4 linked regions of the Homo sapiens genome follow. The protein of the gene in region 3 purifies or fractionates together with the protein of the main gene of each other region. This does not show direct contact. Each region holds a gene or a part of one and is shown on either strand. Other genes may lie near its edges.

Region 1 (3,845 bases), on a different chromosome or scaffold from region 3:
GATACACTCATATTACAATCATGATTACAATCACTGTTACAATCACGCAAAAAACATACATTATTAACTCTACTTAACATTTCCAGCAGTATATCATCTAGAATTAAACAGACAATTACTTAGCTGGACTTTAGACACAAAAACTGGAAGAAAAGTCACTGGCACATGAAACATAACGCATGCTAGAAAATACTCTTTACAAAGAATTAACTATGGGACTATAAATCAACCCAGATTTTATTATAATAATAATTTAGACAAGAGCAACAAAATCAAAAAGAACAACAAAAATATCATTTAACTGTTATGGGTAGGAACGTGTTCCTGAAGTTCATGTATTAGAAACCTAATCCCTAAAGCAACGAAGATGGGAGGTGGGGCCTATCAAGAGATGATTAGGTCTTAAGGGTTCTGCCCTCATAAATGGGTTAATGTCGTTACTGTAGGAGTGGGTTAGTTATCAAGAGAGTTGGCTTATTATAAGCGTGAATTGAGCTCTTAAGTGTGTCCTTCTGTCATCAGATGATGTTGCAAGGAGGTTCTCACCAGATGCAGCCCCTCCATTCTGAACTTCAGGTATCCTGTTATAGTAGTACAAAATGGACTAAGAAAATATCAGAAATTTCCAACGTGAACTAGGCATAGTAAATGGCTAATCACAAACTACTAGACAATAATAAAATCCTCAAAAAAAAAAAAAAAAACCAAACCAAACCAAAACAAAACCATTACATTGGCCAGAAATTAACACCTTACCCATCAATAAGGATCTTAGTTATACCACATGGTAGAGCCATACAACTAAACAGTACACTGACATGCAACAAAAGGAAATCTAAATCTGTATGTACTGAGGAAGAATGAGGCATACGATACACAGAAAGAAAGCAGCAGAGTACATATAATCTGATTTCACTTTTAGAAAACTGGCTTCTCCTCTAAAAAAGATGCCTGTATGTTTTCCCAAGCACGCACAGAAAAGCTTTTGGAAGGATACAAAGAATGGGATGTGAAGAGGAAGTGTTCCCCCATCCATGTATGTATATTATTTTGTAGAGTTTTCTGTGTAATGATCTTGAGCCATCCTGCTCCCCTAATCTGAAAGTAGGGATACACTGGGAAGTAATTTGTAATAGTAGTAAACACCATGTGTTGTCTTAACAAGTGAGACTTGGGTCCCAGTACTAGATGTGCTATCAGTACTAGCTATGCTAACCTTGGGTATATCTCTCTTTCTGCAGTTTTCTTGCCTATTCAAGGTTGTTGGAAATGTTAAATATGACTTTATTCTTACTTATGATTAAACAGACTTTGATATGCATGCAAAGTCCTTGGCCTAGTGCCTGGCACATTAGGCACTCTAAATAGAATGTTAGTTACAGGAAACTGAAGAGGCAACAGAGAAATTAGCATTATCTAACCAAATGAAGAACACAGCCCAGACTGATAATGTCTGTTCTTAACTGCTTTAATCATAGTTATTAGAAATCCCAACACTTTGAACTAGAGTAGTGGCTCTAAACTGGGGTTGATTTTGTTCCCCCAGGAGATAACGGTTGTCACAACTGTGTTTGTGCTGCTGGCATCTTTGGGTAGAGGCCAGGGATGCTGCTTAACATCCCACAACGTGCAGGACAGCCTCCGCAACAAAGAATTACATGCATGATGTGGCATTCACATGTAGAAAAAAAAAAAGAATTATGTGGCCCAAAATGCCAATAGTGCCAAGGCTGAGAAACCCTGAACTAGAGCAGTAGAGGTTTAAAATCCAGCAAACAAGCAAGCAAAATCAGAACACAGGTGTTTAGGTTCATCCCCAATTAGGAAGCGTGGGCCAGAATGCTAGCTCCACAGGTGATATGATTTGCAGCTAAGGTTGGAAATTAACATATTTTAAGAAGCATATTTCATAAATTTTGACTATAACAAAGCAACTTATAATAAATTTGAATATAATAAAGCAACTTATATTATTTTAGAATTACCTATGATAGCCAATTTTCATGCAAATTACCAGACAGAAAACACTCATGTTAGAAAAACCAAAAAAGCTTGTGGCAATGTTCTTACAGTATTAAAACAAACAGCCTTTTGAGAAATGGTAGTTTAAGAATATAATAATGATAAAATAAGAGCAGGTCCACCAGGAAAATGCAAACCAAAACCACAAAATACCACTTCACGTCCACTAGAATGACTATAATAATAAAGAGATAATAAAGCAAGTGAGCATGTGAAGAAACTGGAACCCTCCAGACAATGCTGCTAGGAAAGCAGAATGGTGCAGTCACTTTGGAAAACATCCTGGTTATTTCTCAAAAGGTTAAACATACAGTTACCATATGACCCCAACAATCCTTCTCCTGAGTGTTTACCCAAGAGAACTGAATACACATTGGGCCAGACACAGTGGCTTACGCCTGTAATCCTAGCACTTTGGGAGGGCAAGGCGGGTGGATCGCTTGAGCCCAACAGTTCAAGACCAGCCTGGGCAACATGGCAAAACTGTCTCTACCAAAAAAAAAAAAACAAAAATTCATCCAGGTGTATTGGTGAGCACCTGTAGTCCCAGCTACTTGGGGAGCTGAGGTGGGAGGATCACCAGAGCCCAGGGAGGTCAAGGCTGCGGTGGGCCATGACTGCGCCACTGCATAATCATGCTAGCCTGGGTGACAGAGACCCTGCCTCAAAACAAAAAAACAAACAAACAAACAAAAAAAGTCTACACACAAAAATTATACATGAGTATTTATAGCATCACAACTCAACAGCTACAAAAAGAGAAACACAAATGTCCACCAACCAATGAATGGAGAATATGTGGCATATTACAATGAAATATTATTTCACAATACAAGTGAATGCTACAAAATGAACCGTGAAAACTTTATGCTAAGTTAAAGAAGATGGTCACAAAGGACAATGCATTGTATGACTCCATTTACATGAAATGTCTAGAATAGGCAAACCCAGAGACAGAATATTGACTAGTAGTTGCCCAGAGCCAGTGAACAATAGGGAGTTACTGCTAAAGGGTATGGGTGATGAAAACATAGTCTACAACTGATTGTGGTAATGGTTGAACAGCTCTCTGAATATACTAAAAACCAATGAAATGTATACTTTAATGGGTAGTAAACTGTACAGTAGATGAATTATACCCCAATAAAGTTATCATCAAAGTAGGCAACTGTGCTTTTCCCTTTCTGACTTACTTAGATTCCAGTCAGAAATTGTATCATCATCATCAATTTCATCATCATCATCATCTTCCTCTTCAATTCCATCTTCATCATGCTGCTGAGCCACCGTCCTCGATCGGTGAAAACGTGGCCGTATATCCTGTTCACTATCAGGAATCGTTTCGTCTTCTTCAACATCACCCTGTTGTTTTTTTAAGAGAAATTTTTGGTGGCATTCATTATAGGCTAATAGTATGTACATGAGTAAGAGAAACAGAATATCCAGAGATGGGGTCATGCACAGAATTCTGAAATATACTTCCAGAGTGATTAAGAACCACGCCCATGTACAGAACATATTCCTTATGGAGGGGCGAATAGACTGACCTAACACACCTGTTAGGTTATACGGCCCTTTCAGCCAACTACATGGCCTCCACTGGCTGGTATAATCTAAGTTACCTGAATCAAATTCAGAGCAGCATATATAAGAATGTTTTTAAAATAACTCCAAGTAATTAAGGGGAAATTAATAATAACCCTACCAATGTCACCATCTAGTACCAAATTAAGCAAGAATTTATCATTACTTAAACTTATGCTTCTATCCTATTATGGATAATAGGAAGTCTATTTACAGGAGATCTATTCTCAATGAATGTT
Region 2 (3,845 bases), on a different chromosome or scaffold from region 3:
AAAGGCTTATACAGTTTATACTACAGCAGAAATGCCAAGCCTTTCTTTTTTAAAAAAAAATCAGTCTGTACCACCACAATATTAAACAAAAAAGAAAAAAATTCAATAAGAAAATGCTTTATTTATTGTAAACACTGATGTCTACAGAAAAAGAGGTAAACTGGAGGAGGAAGGACACTTTTGGGTGTATTTCAGGATCACTGCATATCTAGTTTCACTTTGAAATTTATGTTTTTCTTGACATAACTTTCACTATTCATAGGAATCAGTCATAATTATGGTTGCTTTTTGATTTATGGGATAGGAAAAGAAGAAAAAAGGTAAGGAGATTTTTTTTCTCAGATAACTGCACAAGCTGAAAGAAAAGGGAAAAAGATGAAGATAATTTCAGAGGACTTTTGAAGAAGAAATACCTGAGGTCCAATTATATGTAAAAAAAATATGAGCTGAAGGGGGTAAAGAGGGGACATGTTGTGGGAATGATACCCTTCTAAATGACAACAATGGAACTGGTAGGAAGGTGCTAGGTCAGTTCAGGGACTTCCTGCATTGTCCAACAGACAATGATCTGGACAATGTATAAAATGAGTGTTATCATGAATGAACTAATTACTCAACAGTCATGGACTAAGGGCCTAATACGCGTTAGGCACTAGGGATGTATAGATAACAGACACAGAATGAGACATGAAATACAGAAAGAATAGTAGGTTTTATGGGAAGAGTTTGATTCACATTTTGAACAAGTTAATTTTGAAGAACCTCTGGGCAGAGCCATGATGAAGTCCATTAGGAAGTAAAATTTATGAGTTTGGTGCTGCAGGGGAGAAGTTCCATTAGGTATTCAAATGGAGGTATTATTTGTAGCTGTGAGCATGGAAAAGATCACTCAGATAAAGCATATAGAACATTGCTTTTCAAAGTTAAGTGTTCATGGGGAAGTTGTTAAAACAAATTTCTATTATAGATTTCACCCTCAAAGATTCTGATTCAGAATTAGGGTGACACTCAAGAATTTATATTTCTAACAGGCTCCCAGGGGATGCTGATGCTGCATTCTGTGGATCACACTTAGAGTAGCTCTGGTATAGAAAAAGGGCTCTTTAGGGATCTGAGGAGATACAGTCAATAGGCGGATTTCAGATGGATTTGGGTGTATGGGCAACATATCTTTGTTTTGGGTCATGGGGGAAATCAATAGCTTTTAGTAGATTTCAAAAGAATTTGTGACTTCAAAAAAAGACAATAATGATACAGCCCAAGAGGTATTCCCTGGCTTTGGGAATTAGGAGAAAGATTTAATAAATCATGTGATCCAACAAACCATGATTAGTAAATGGGGCAACTAAGATCCAAAAAGAAAGAGTGAGTTCCCTAGGATCCCACAGTTGACTCTTGTCAAAAATAGGCTCCTTGCTTAATGCTCCTTCTATGACATCATATTATACTGTCTTCCATTGGACTTGTTTAGCAATGGTAGCTTAGTTGCTTTGGGGAGAGACAGATGTGATGGGGAAGAAAGAATGGCATGACTTTGGCATGGACAGAGGAAAGGGAAAGGTGACACAATATGTAAATAAGGATTTTAATGGACACACTATTTGTACCTTGAGTTTCCATAATGAAGGAAGTGAAGGTTGCGGGAACAGATCAGGATTTTAACTTGTATCCAGCTATACTACAAATTACCTCCAGGAGAATTCCTTTTACCTTCAACAGGAAGTTGAAATTCTGAATTCCACACTTGGAATTCAGACAGTAGTAATTTAATTATATTTTAAAAGCAGAAGGTTCCATGATAAAATTCAGTGATTTGATATTTGCTGCATATTTGTGGTCCATACCTAGAAGCATTCCTCAAACATGTAGCAAGTATCAAAAAGCATTAATTCCCTTTTTTGTGGAAAAGGGGTTTAGATTTGGATAAGAATGGTGACAGCCCTAGAAAAAACTAGGCTACTTGAGTTTGACCGCTGACGTTCCCGTTTCCCAGAACTGTCAAGACTAAAAATGACCTCCAGCTGGGTCAAAGCACCTAAGGAAGGCCCAGGTTAAAAAGGAGTCAATTCATTCTGCTTTATCTGAAAGAATGTTTTCAAGGATATTTGCTGCTGTAAAATCATCTTAGTTTGTTGGGAAGGCTTGGACAGTCCCTTCATTGTCAATACTTTTGTGGAGCTCTATATTCTGACTGGACCTAATTCTGTACAGCTAAACACAGGTTGATGGGATCAGCACCCTGCAGGGATTAACAGAAGTCAGGATTCAATTCAAGGAGGTACAGATGCTTAGTTTATATAAAAGAGCATCTACTTCATTTGAAAAATGGTAAGTGAAATTTCTCGCTACAGTAGCCTTCACTACTCCCTCCCCTCCCCAGTTTTAATGGAAATATCAGTACATTTAATTCTCCTGCATGTGACAAAATTCTAAGAAAAACCTTCTCCGATAGATTTCAGAATTATCACTATGGTTCTCAATTAGAAACCAGTGGTGGTATTTGAGGTTCAGACTGAATAAGAAGTTTGGGTGGATCTTTTGAGTGGACAAAATACACGTACACATAATTATTGCCTACTTCTCTGCTTCATATTCGTGTTGAAAACTCTAGGCCTATAAAAATTTTATGTCATGTATCTTTCCAAGTCATCAGACACCACCTGTTATGGTTATTGCTCTTTGGGGGAAGGGGGCATTCAGTGACATTTTGTTCACCATTCCAATGTAATCGCAGTGACATGTTAAAATTCCTACACTCCCATCAGTTATAGAGTCAGCACATCAAGAGGAGACATTTAAGTTCTTTCATTTAAAAGGCTATATAACAACTAGTTCCATTCACTGACTCTTAAAGTTCCTGGGTTGGGCAAAAAATGGCTAAGGAATTGACTGAATTTGAAAAAACAGCATGAGGAATGCAGATAACTTTCCTAGTACACTTTAGACACCTCACCCATTTGAAGCAAAGGAGTGCTCGATGGGAAGAACCCTAATCCTGTTTTTACATTGTACTCTACTTATTCTTCTCTTCCTTCTGCTGGTTCTTCTCAAGTTTTGCCAAGTACTTACCTAGAAACTCACTTATACGCATACACATCAAGTGCTTACCTTGATATTTTAAGGCTATAGCTGATGGAACTTGCAAGGCATGAATGTCCAGTAAAGCAAGACCTCTAAGAGCCTGCCCCGGAGGCCCCGCCATGGCCAGGCTACAGGCTGAGGCTTTTGAGGTGCTGCTTACCTGGGAGACTGTGATGCCACACTTCTTGGCTAACTCCTCTTTGGCTTCCTCACTGGGGTAAGGGTTGCTGAGATGGGAATAGAAATATTCATTCAGGATTTCTGTCGCTTGCTTGTTGAAATTCCGTCTCTTCCGCCTTTGTAAAGAGAAAGGAAATAATAACAAAAAGGCTCACACCAAATAAATATAAAATGGGAGAGAATAAATCTACTTCTGGGAGAAGACAAATTTTTGAGCAAAAGGTGAATTTGGAGCAGATTTACCAAAAGGGGCTGGATGCCAAAACCAACGCTAAAAGCATTTGCTCAATACTTCATTGTGTACCATCTGGGCACCGAACAGAAGAGTGGTCACAGATATTTTTGCAGAGTAGTGAGGAGTATAAAGTTTCAAAATTCGGGCCATCTTGGTTTGTTTTTTTGAGATGGAGTTTCACTCTGTCACCCAGGCTGGAGTGCAGTGGTGTGATCTTGGCTCACTGGAACCTCCACCTCCTGGGTTCAAGTGATTCTCCTGTCTCAGCCTCTTGAGTAGCTGGGATTACAGGCACGTGCCACAACACCCAGCTAATTTTTGTATTTTTAGTAGAGATGGGGTTTCATCA
Region 3 (3,500 bases):
CCTCCTCCTGGAGCTGATGGTGAGGCCAGGAAACAGTGTCTCTTTGTGACCAAAGCACGGTCACTTTGAAGTCACAGCCCCACTACTGTGTGGCCAAGGCTCTACCATGTTCCCTCTCTGGACCTCAGTTTCCCCATGGGTGAAATGGGGATGATGTCATCTCCCCTGGGGCCTTGTAATGGCCTGGCACACAGACAGTCCCCCAAACAGTGCTGCTGGGACTGTCATTCATATCTGGGAGGGTCGGGGGTGAGGGGGGCTTTGCAGCCACTTAGAATCCCCTAAAGCCCCACTACTTCCTGGGGCCCAGCTAGGTGGGCGTGTTCCTGCCCATGAAACAGGAGCCTTTGCCCCATTTCACAGAAGGAGAAACTGAGGTTCTGAATCCAAGGTTTCAAAGCTAGTTAGTAGTGGTGAAATCTGGATGTTGTTAATACCCCACCCAGGGCTTCCTGGGGAGAAGGTACACCAGGAAGCTTAAGGCATCAGATGCAGGGTTTCTAGGAACATGGCAGGCCCTGGATTCTGGCAATACTGAGGCACAGTGCCCCAACCTTTGCTCTTGAACCCATGCTTGCCTTGTTCCCAGCGACCCCTCCACCCTACCCTGCTTAATATCTCCAAAGGAATTTTATTCCAAGCACTGCAAGATCTGGACTGGGGTGGGGTGAGGGAAGTAGTACCTGCCACAGAGAGAGAGAAAGAGAGAAAATCTGAAAGGGGGTTATTTCCCCCACTTTGCACAAATTATCTCAAGGAATGAACGTAGCAATGCTTGAGCCCACTTTACAGATGAGGAAACAAACTCCGAGGGATGAAGCTCCTTGCCAAAGGAGAGATAAACTCTTTGCTCTGGGGCTGCAAACACCCAGAAAGTGAAAGAAAATTCCTGAGCAACACACCGGGCAGAGGAAGCTGGGTCTGCCAAGTGATGGGTAAGACAGACCCAAATGGCCAAATTTTCGAAAGACGCTTTCATCCCCAAGTTACAGCCATAAGCGTGCCGTGCACTAACGCCAGAAACCATTGCTGTTCTTATTAGGGGTGGATTTAATGAGGGCATCCCAGGCACACAACTGAACACTTCTGTGTATTATCTAAGCCCATCACCCAGCAAGCCCATCAGTGGGGGTGCCCCTTCTCCCCACCCCAGCAGGGCCACCCTGGGCTCAGAGAGGGTGAGAGCCTTGCCAGATGTCACAGAGCATGGGTGCAGGATTCCCCAGCCTCCGCCTAGAATGAGAAAGAGAGCCAACCAGTCTGGTATCCACAGGGAATATTTTTAAGAGAGAATATTATTCTTCAGTTCTTGACAACCCAAGCATGACCAAACTCATCCTCCCGCTGGATTCATTCCAGCTAGGGGGACCTAACACGCCCTCAGACCGCGGCTCCCCAGGGCTGCCGAGTCGCTGCCGATAAATCAGTCCCACGGAAGCCGCCTCAAGTCATGGCCTGCCCCAGCTCAAGAGAGGCCCTCAGTCTCCGCTCCTTGAGGCGGTAAGCACGCCAGCCCCCACGCCAGGACCCAGAGATAAAACCACCCCCTTGCCAAGCTCCCAGGGTTGGCGGAGATCATGGAGTCACTCAGCGCCCAGCACTGGCAGACATCACAGGACCCAGTGAGTGCTGTTCTGTTTTCCACTTGATTGTCAGCCTCCCCCATCAGACTGTGGCCATGTGGAGAAGGGCAGGTTTGGTCTGTTCACCCCCCGACCCTGCACACACCAGGCCCTCAGTTGGGTCCAGTGTACTGACTGTGAAGCGCCCTTCATCCCCATTTGACAGACGAGAAGACTGAGGCTCTAAGGGGCAGGAGCTACCCAGGGGTCACCCACGGCCATGTCACCAGCTCTGGTGGTGTGGCTCTCTCCTCTCAGCCCAGGATTCCCAGCTGCTCAGGCCAGGGTGGAATCCCAAATGCCCTGTATCTGGGCAGCTCCTGTCTGCAGAGCCACAGTTTCCTCATCTGCAACTTGGGGGTGGTGATTCCTGCTGAGCCCGGCTAAGAGCAGCATGGGAGACCTCACGAGAGACTGGCAATACCATGTGCATGTTGGGGGGTCAGTCCCAGAGGCTGGGGCAACATCATCTCAAAACAGATAACCCTGTGTGTGCCTCACCCGATTCAGGCAGCACAGGGGGCCGAGGGCAGGGGCCTCTGGTTCTTGGGGACTGATGGGCATGCCTGCCCAGCAAGGAAAGACTGCAGGACAGTTTTTAAGGACAGCTATGGCCAGAAAGAACCACCTCACACTCCATGCCCAGGGTCAAGGCCCAGAGCTGAGACAGACACCCCTGCTCTTTCTCCTCCCAAAAGCACTCCTCAGCTTTTCTTCATGGCACAAATCCTCGCTGATCTTCCGGCCTCTTCCTACTACCCCGTCACCCCTGCCCTGAACACCACAGCACTTCATTTGGTCATCATACTGCAGAGGTTCAGTCTGCCCCCTGCTCACCCCGCTGCGATCACGAGACCCACGTTGGATTCTGTCTTCCAAACTTCTCCATCCACAATGGAGACAGTCAGTTCCATTAAGGGAAGGAGAGAACCAGGAGCAGGTGCCAAAAAAAGCAATTGCGTGAATAACTCAACTCACTCCGTTTCTCTTACAGGGTTCAACAATGATAGTGGCCACCATTCGTGGAGCAAGGAACTTTTGTACATCACTTCAGCTCTCAGAACCTCGGTTCTAGGAAATGGGGGAAATAATAGGACCGGCCGTGATGGAGGCAGTTAGGAGAATTAAGTGAAATGATCCATGCAAAACGCTTAGCACGTGGGGCGCTCCTGCCAACGCTGGCTATGAGTACAGCCTGTCAATGTTGTTGGCCAGCCTGCAGGTGACAGTGGGGACCTGCAGGGCTGGGCCCGGGGAGGGCTGAGTGACCCTTCTGCAGGCTGTGCCTGGGGTGAAGGGAGAATGGAAAAGAGGGGACGTTTACCTGGGGATGTTGCATTTTAAATTTTGCTTCTAGAGATGCCACCCACCCATAGAGGGGGCCGAGTTTTCTTTTTTTCTTTGAAGTCAGCAAAACAGGCCTCGTCATCACCCTGCTCTGCACTAAAATCCGCGGACCAGGTTCCAATGTGGGTGAGCCACGTGCTCAGGCGTCGTGAGCCGGGCGGAGGTGGCTGCCACCTCCCACGCCAGGCAAAGGGCTGCCTCGGTGGTTCTCCCAGCCACGGTTCCACCACTGAGCCCCAGGGAAGGAGACTTCTGACCCAGCCACCTCCTGCCCCGCTGCCTACCTGAGGGAAAGCCAGGGGTATTCGGGAAGAAGGACAGAGCCCAACAACTGCCCATATCAAGGGCTCCCTGGGTACTCCGGGCTAGGTGCTCACCTCTTCTCTAGTACGGGAGGAGTAAGAGAACCTACCTTGCAGGCTGCTAGGAGGATTAAGTGAGATGACAGCTGGAAAGCCTTCAGCATAAGGTGAGCCCTTTGTCAAAAAAAGGGTAGCTGCTCTGACACTTATCATTCTTTTGTTGTTGTTG
Region 4 (3,845 bases), on a different chromosome or scaffold from region 3:
AGAAAGCATTAATCCTATAAATCCCCTCTAGGCACTGCTTGAGTTATGTCTCACAAATTCTGACATGCTGTATTTTCCTGTGTACAGTTTGTTAAAGTTTTTTTGTTGAGGCATCCTCTCGGACCCATGGACTACTCAGAATTGTATTAGTCTGCAAGTGTTTGGAGACTTTCCTGTTCTCTGTTACTGATTTCTAATTTAACCCCACCATGGTCAGAAAACTTACTTCGTATGGTTTTGATTTTTTAAAATTTGTTAAGGGCTCTTTTGTGACAGGTATGCTCCATCTTGGTGGCTAATCTTTGTGAAGTTGAAAAGATGGGTGTTCTGCTGTTGAGGCTGCAGTGCATGTGTCATTTCAATCCAACCCACGGGTGGGGTCATCGGGCTCCGTGCTCTCGCTGACTGTCTATGAGGCTCCATCACTGAGGAGAGGGCTGCAATCCCCGGCGATCATGTGATTTCTACACAGGCCGTCCGTTTGCTTTGTGTGGAAAGCCCTGTTGTCTGGCGCACACACATTTATGGCAGGATTTCTTCAAGAGCTGCTCCTTTTCTAATTAGATAACCTTCTTATTCCTGGTCACTTCCTTCCTCGGAGTCTCCTTTGGCACTGACATAGCCACTTCCGCTTCCTTCTGATGGGTGTTTTCTCAGCACATCTTGTCCTCTTACTTCTCACCCGCCTGCACCACAGCACCTAGAGTGGTGTGACACACAGGGTGCTTATGCCCCACATTCCTATGTTGAAAGCTTAACCCCAGACGCAAGGGTATCTGGAGATGGGGCCTTTGGGAGGCGATGAGGTTGCAAGGGTAGAACGCTCATGAACAGAACTGGTGGCTCCGTCGCCCTGCCTTCCTTCCAGCAAGAAGGTGCTGTCTGTGGACCAGGAAAGGGACCCTCACCAGACACTGAATCTGGCTAATCAGATCCAGTGACGTGGTCAGTGCCCCCTTCCTGGTCCACAGTGGATCTTCACCTTGGACTTTCAGCTTCCAGAACCGCAAGAAATAAGATTCTGTTGTTCACAAGCCACCTAGCCTATCATGTTTCGTGACAGCATCCCGAATGAAATACAACAAATGAGCTTCTTGTAAACACCAGAGAGTTGGTTATTTTAAAAATACATTCTCATAAGCTGCCCAGTCCCGTCTGTTCATCTGTTAGCATTTAGGTTTTCCACTATTTGCTGTTTGTTGCCTCTGTTTCTCATTCCTTATGGTATTTCTTCTTTCCTGCTTTCTCTTGGGCCACTGAAATGTTTTTGTATTTCATTTAAATTTACCTATTCTGATTCTGACTGCGTCTCTTCACATAAGCTCTGCAAGGCCTGCTCAAAGGGCTGTAACACGCAACTCAACCCCACATGCTCTCCATGGCACCCACACATGTGCTTCCACTGGAGCATAGCAGCTCTCTTGCCCACAGCCCCACCGCCGCCAGGCCCCACAGCCGCCACAGCCCCACCGCCACCACAGGCCCCACGGCCGCCCTGGAAATGGCACTGCACAGGCCCCACGGCCGCCCTGGGAACGGCACTGCACAGGCACTGCCGGACACTACTCTTGTCTTCTTGCACCATCACTGGCGTCTCCACAAACACTCAGTGGGAGGAGGCCCTCCTGTTGGGAGAACTCTGCAGGGAGCCTCTGGAACAGGTCTGCTGGCTGTGAGGGCTCTTGGTTTTGAGTGACTTTGGACACTGACTGGATGTGGAATTCTGGGATGACCTTTCTTTTCTCCCAGCACTGGAAGATGTGTGGGGCTTCCTTCTTCCTTCTGGCCTCCTGGGTTTCTAAAAGTGCCACGGTCATTCACTGCGGCATCTGTTGTCAGTACCAGGCCACCGCCGTCTGACTGCTGACAGAGGATGGCTGCCAAGGGCTTTTTCTTTGCCCCCAGTTCTCAGCATTTGGTTGCATGCATCTGCACGTGTCTGTGAGCCTTATTTGGGGTTTGCTTAGCTTCTTAAGTCTGCAGGTTTGTGTCTTTGTGGGAAGTTCTCAGCCATTATTGCTGCAATGTGTTTCCGGCCCCGCCCCCTTTCTCGTCTCCCTAGGAGTCAGACATCAGCCTTTTTGGGACTGTCCTACAGGCCCTAGCAGGGAGGAGACGCGCCTCAATCCCAGAGCCCTCACACGACCCAGGCAGACTTGCTGGTCTTTTGGGTGGCAAGTGGCCCTGAGGCCCTCTGAGAAGTCTCCATGTTTCTCTTAGTTTGAGTGGATTTCTGTCCCTTGGTTTGAAAGGATTCCTGGAAAGGCATTACATGCAATTAATTCACACACATCTACTACCACCATGATGCCAGCTCCAGATGAGAAGGACCAAGAGGCAAATCTGGGTGGCCTAGGCCCTCCAAGGGGACATAGGTCTGCCCAACACCACATCCTACACTCCTCCAAGGACCCCTTTTCCAAACCAACCCAGTACCACAGAACATGCAGGAGCAGAGCCTCTGGGAAGGGTGCCAGGCCCCGTCTGCCCAGGAGCAGAGGCGCTGAGCCAGCACTTGGCCACAGGTGGCTCCAGAGCCACAGTGGACACAAGGCTCTCGAGTAGCTCTCGGGTGCTGCCCTGCCACCTCAGGACCCATCTCCATGCCTGATCCATGGAGGCCACCGCCGTCTCACATTGAGCTTGCTCCCCTCAAAGCCATAAGCACTGTCCCCATCTTCCTGGGCCATGCCTGGCTGTGACACCTCATTTTCCTGGGGAATTAAGACAGTGAAGCCAGCTGTTGTCTGTACCTGCCCCGGTGTCACCCATAACCAAACCAAGCTGTGACCCATCATGGCCATGAGGGCAGGGCCCAGCAGGACTGAAGCCAAGGGGACGCCTGCCAGCTGCCTGTGCAGAAGCTCCCCTTGGCTTCTTGAAGGCAGAACTCAGCTTTGTCTGGGGACCACGTCTCCCTGTGCCAGGGCCAGGAAAGCCATGTCTGTGGGCAGGATGACTTTCAGGACGCACTCACAGGCACACATTCTGTCCCTGACCTGTGTGCACTGACAACAACGGGACATCAGGGAAAAGCTTCCGCCCTCCTCAGCCGCACATGTCCCAGGCTAAGCCCAGCAGACCCAGCCTCCTCCTGCCTGCAGCCTCCAAGGCTGCTTTCAGCAACCCAGGCCTGGCGGCGCTCCTTCCCATGCTACGCAAGTGAGGTGCTCAGGGCCACTAACGGACACCCATTTACTGAGGAAATCAGGGTGCAGTGCTTCCAGGAGAGAGCTACCAGCACCAGGCATGTTGGATGGTCACGGAGAAGGTAACTGAGCCCCCATGAAATGAATGGCCGAGCAAGGACCTGTGGCCTGCCCAGCCCAGCCCTCACTGTCCCATCCAGAGCTGTCACGGGAGCCAGCGGAGAAGGGCTCTCTGCAATCTTAGGGCATTCCTTCTGGAAACGTCTCTGTCCCTAGAAACATAGCCCATCAACCCCCACCAGCTCCTGCACCTTCTGGGCCCCACTGGGGACCTGGGTAGCTGGGCCACTGGCCCAGCCTGTGGCCTTTCCACAGGAAGGTGGATGTTGTGGAAGGCCTGTGCCAAGACTTCTCAGGGTCTCCAGGTGAGAACGGAATCTGAGAGGACAGGAGCCTGGGGCAGCGGGGGCTCAGAGCCCCACCGAGTCTCCCAAGAGAAAGTGGGCTGTAGCCAGGCAGCACTCACGTGTTGCACACGGCCATCGTCTGACACGTCTCTCCTGTGCAGAACTCGGAGATGGTGCTATACTGCAGGTTGATGTGGTGGAAAAACGTCGTGGCTGGAAGAGAAGAGAAGGAGCCAGATGTGAAAAACGCCAGAGCTGAGCCGCCCCGTCCACCCCTGCTTCCAGCAAC

What was found.
Region 1: the proteins of MN1 (region 3) and TNPO1 purify together in Homo sapiens (affinity purification with mass spectrometry, with the first as the bait; one large-scale study listed by BioGRID). This does not show direct contact.
Region 2: the proteins of MN1 (region 3) and PBX1 purify together in Homo sapiens (affinity purification with western blotting; one study listed by BioGRID). This does not show direct contact.
Region 4: the proteins of MN1 (region 3) and MOB2 purify together in Homo sapiens (affinity purification with mass spectrometry, with the first as the bait; one large-scale study listed by BioGRID). This does not show direct contact.

What each region holds. Positions count from the first base shown.
Region 1 is NC_000005.10:72,882,603-72,886,447, reverse strand, and holds part of TNPO1 (transportin-1), read right to left. Parts: intron 3,385-3,845; coding exon 3,216-3,384; intron 1-3,215. UniProt on the Homo sapiens protein: Functions in nuclear protein import as nuclear transport receptor. Serves as receptor for nuclear localization signals (NLS) in cargo substrates.
Region 2 is NC_000001.11:164,807,074-164,810,918, reverse strand, and holds part of PBX1 (pre-B-cell leukemia transcription factor 1), read right to left. Parts: intron 3,378-3,845; coding exon 3,242-3,377; intron 1-3,241. UniProt on the Homo sapiens protein: Transcription factor which binds the DNA sequence 5'-TGATTGAT-3' as part of a heterodimer with HOX proteins such as HOXA1, HOXA5, HOXB7 and HOXB8. Binds to the DNA sequence 5'-TGATTGAC-3' in complex with a nuclear factor which is not a class I HOX protein.
Region 3 is NC_000022.11:27,753,257-27,756,756, forward strand, and holds part of MN1 (transcriptional activator MN1), read right to left. Parts: intron 1-3,500. UniProt on the Homo sapiens protein: Transcriptional activator which specifically regulates expression of TBX22 in the posterior region of the developing palate. Required during later stages of palate development for growth and medial fusion of the palatal shelves.
Region 4 is NC_000011.10:1,476,718-1,480,562, forward strand, and holds part of MOB2 (MOB kinase activator 2), read right to left. Parts: intron 3,770-3,845; coding exon 3,676-3,769; intron 1-3,675. UniProt on the Homo sapiens protein: Stimulates the autophosphorylation and kinase activity of STK38 and STK38L.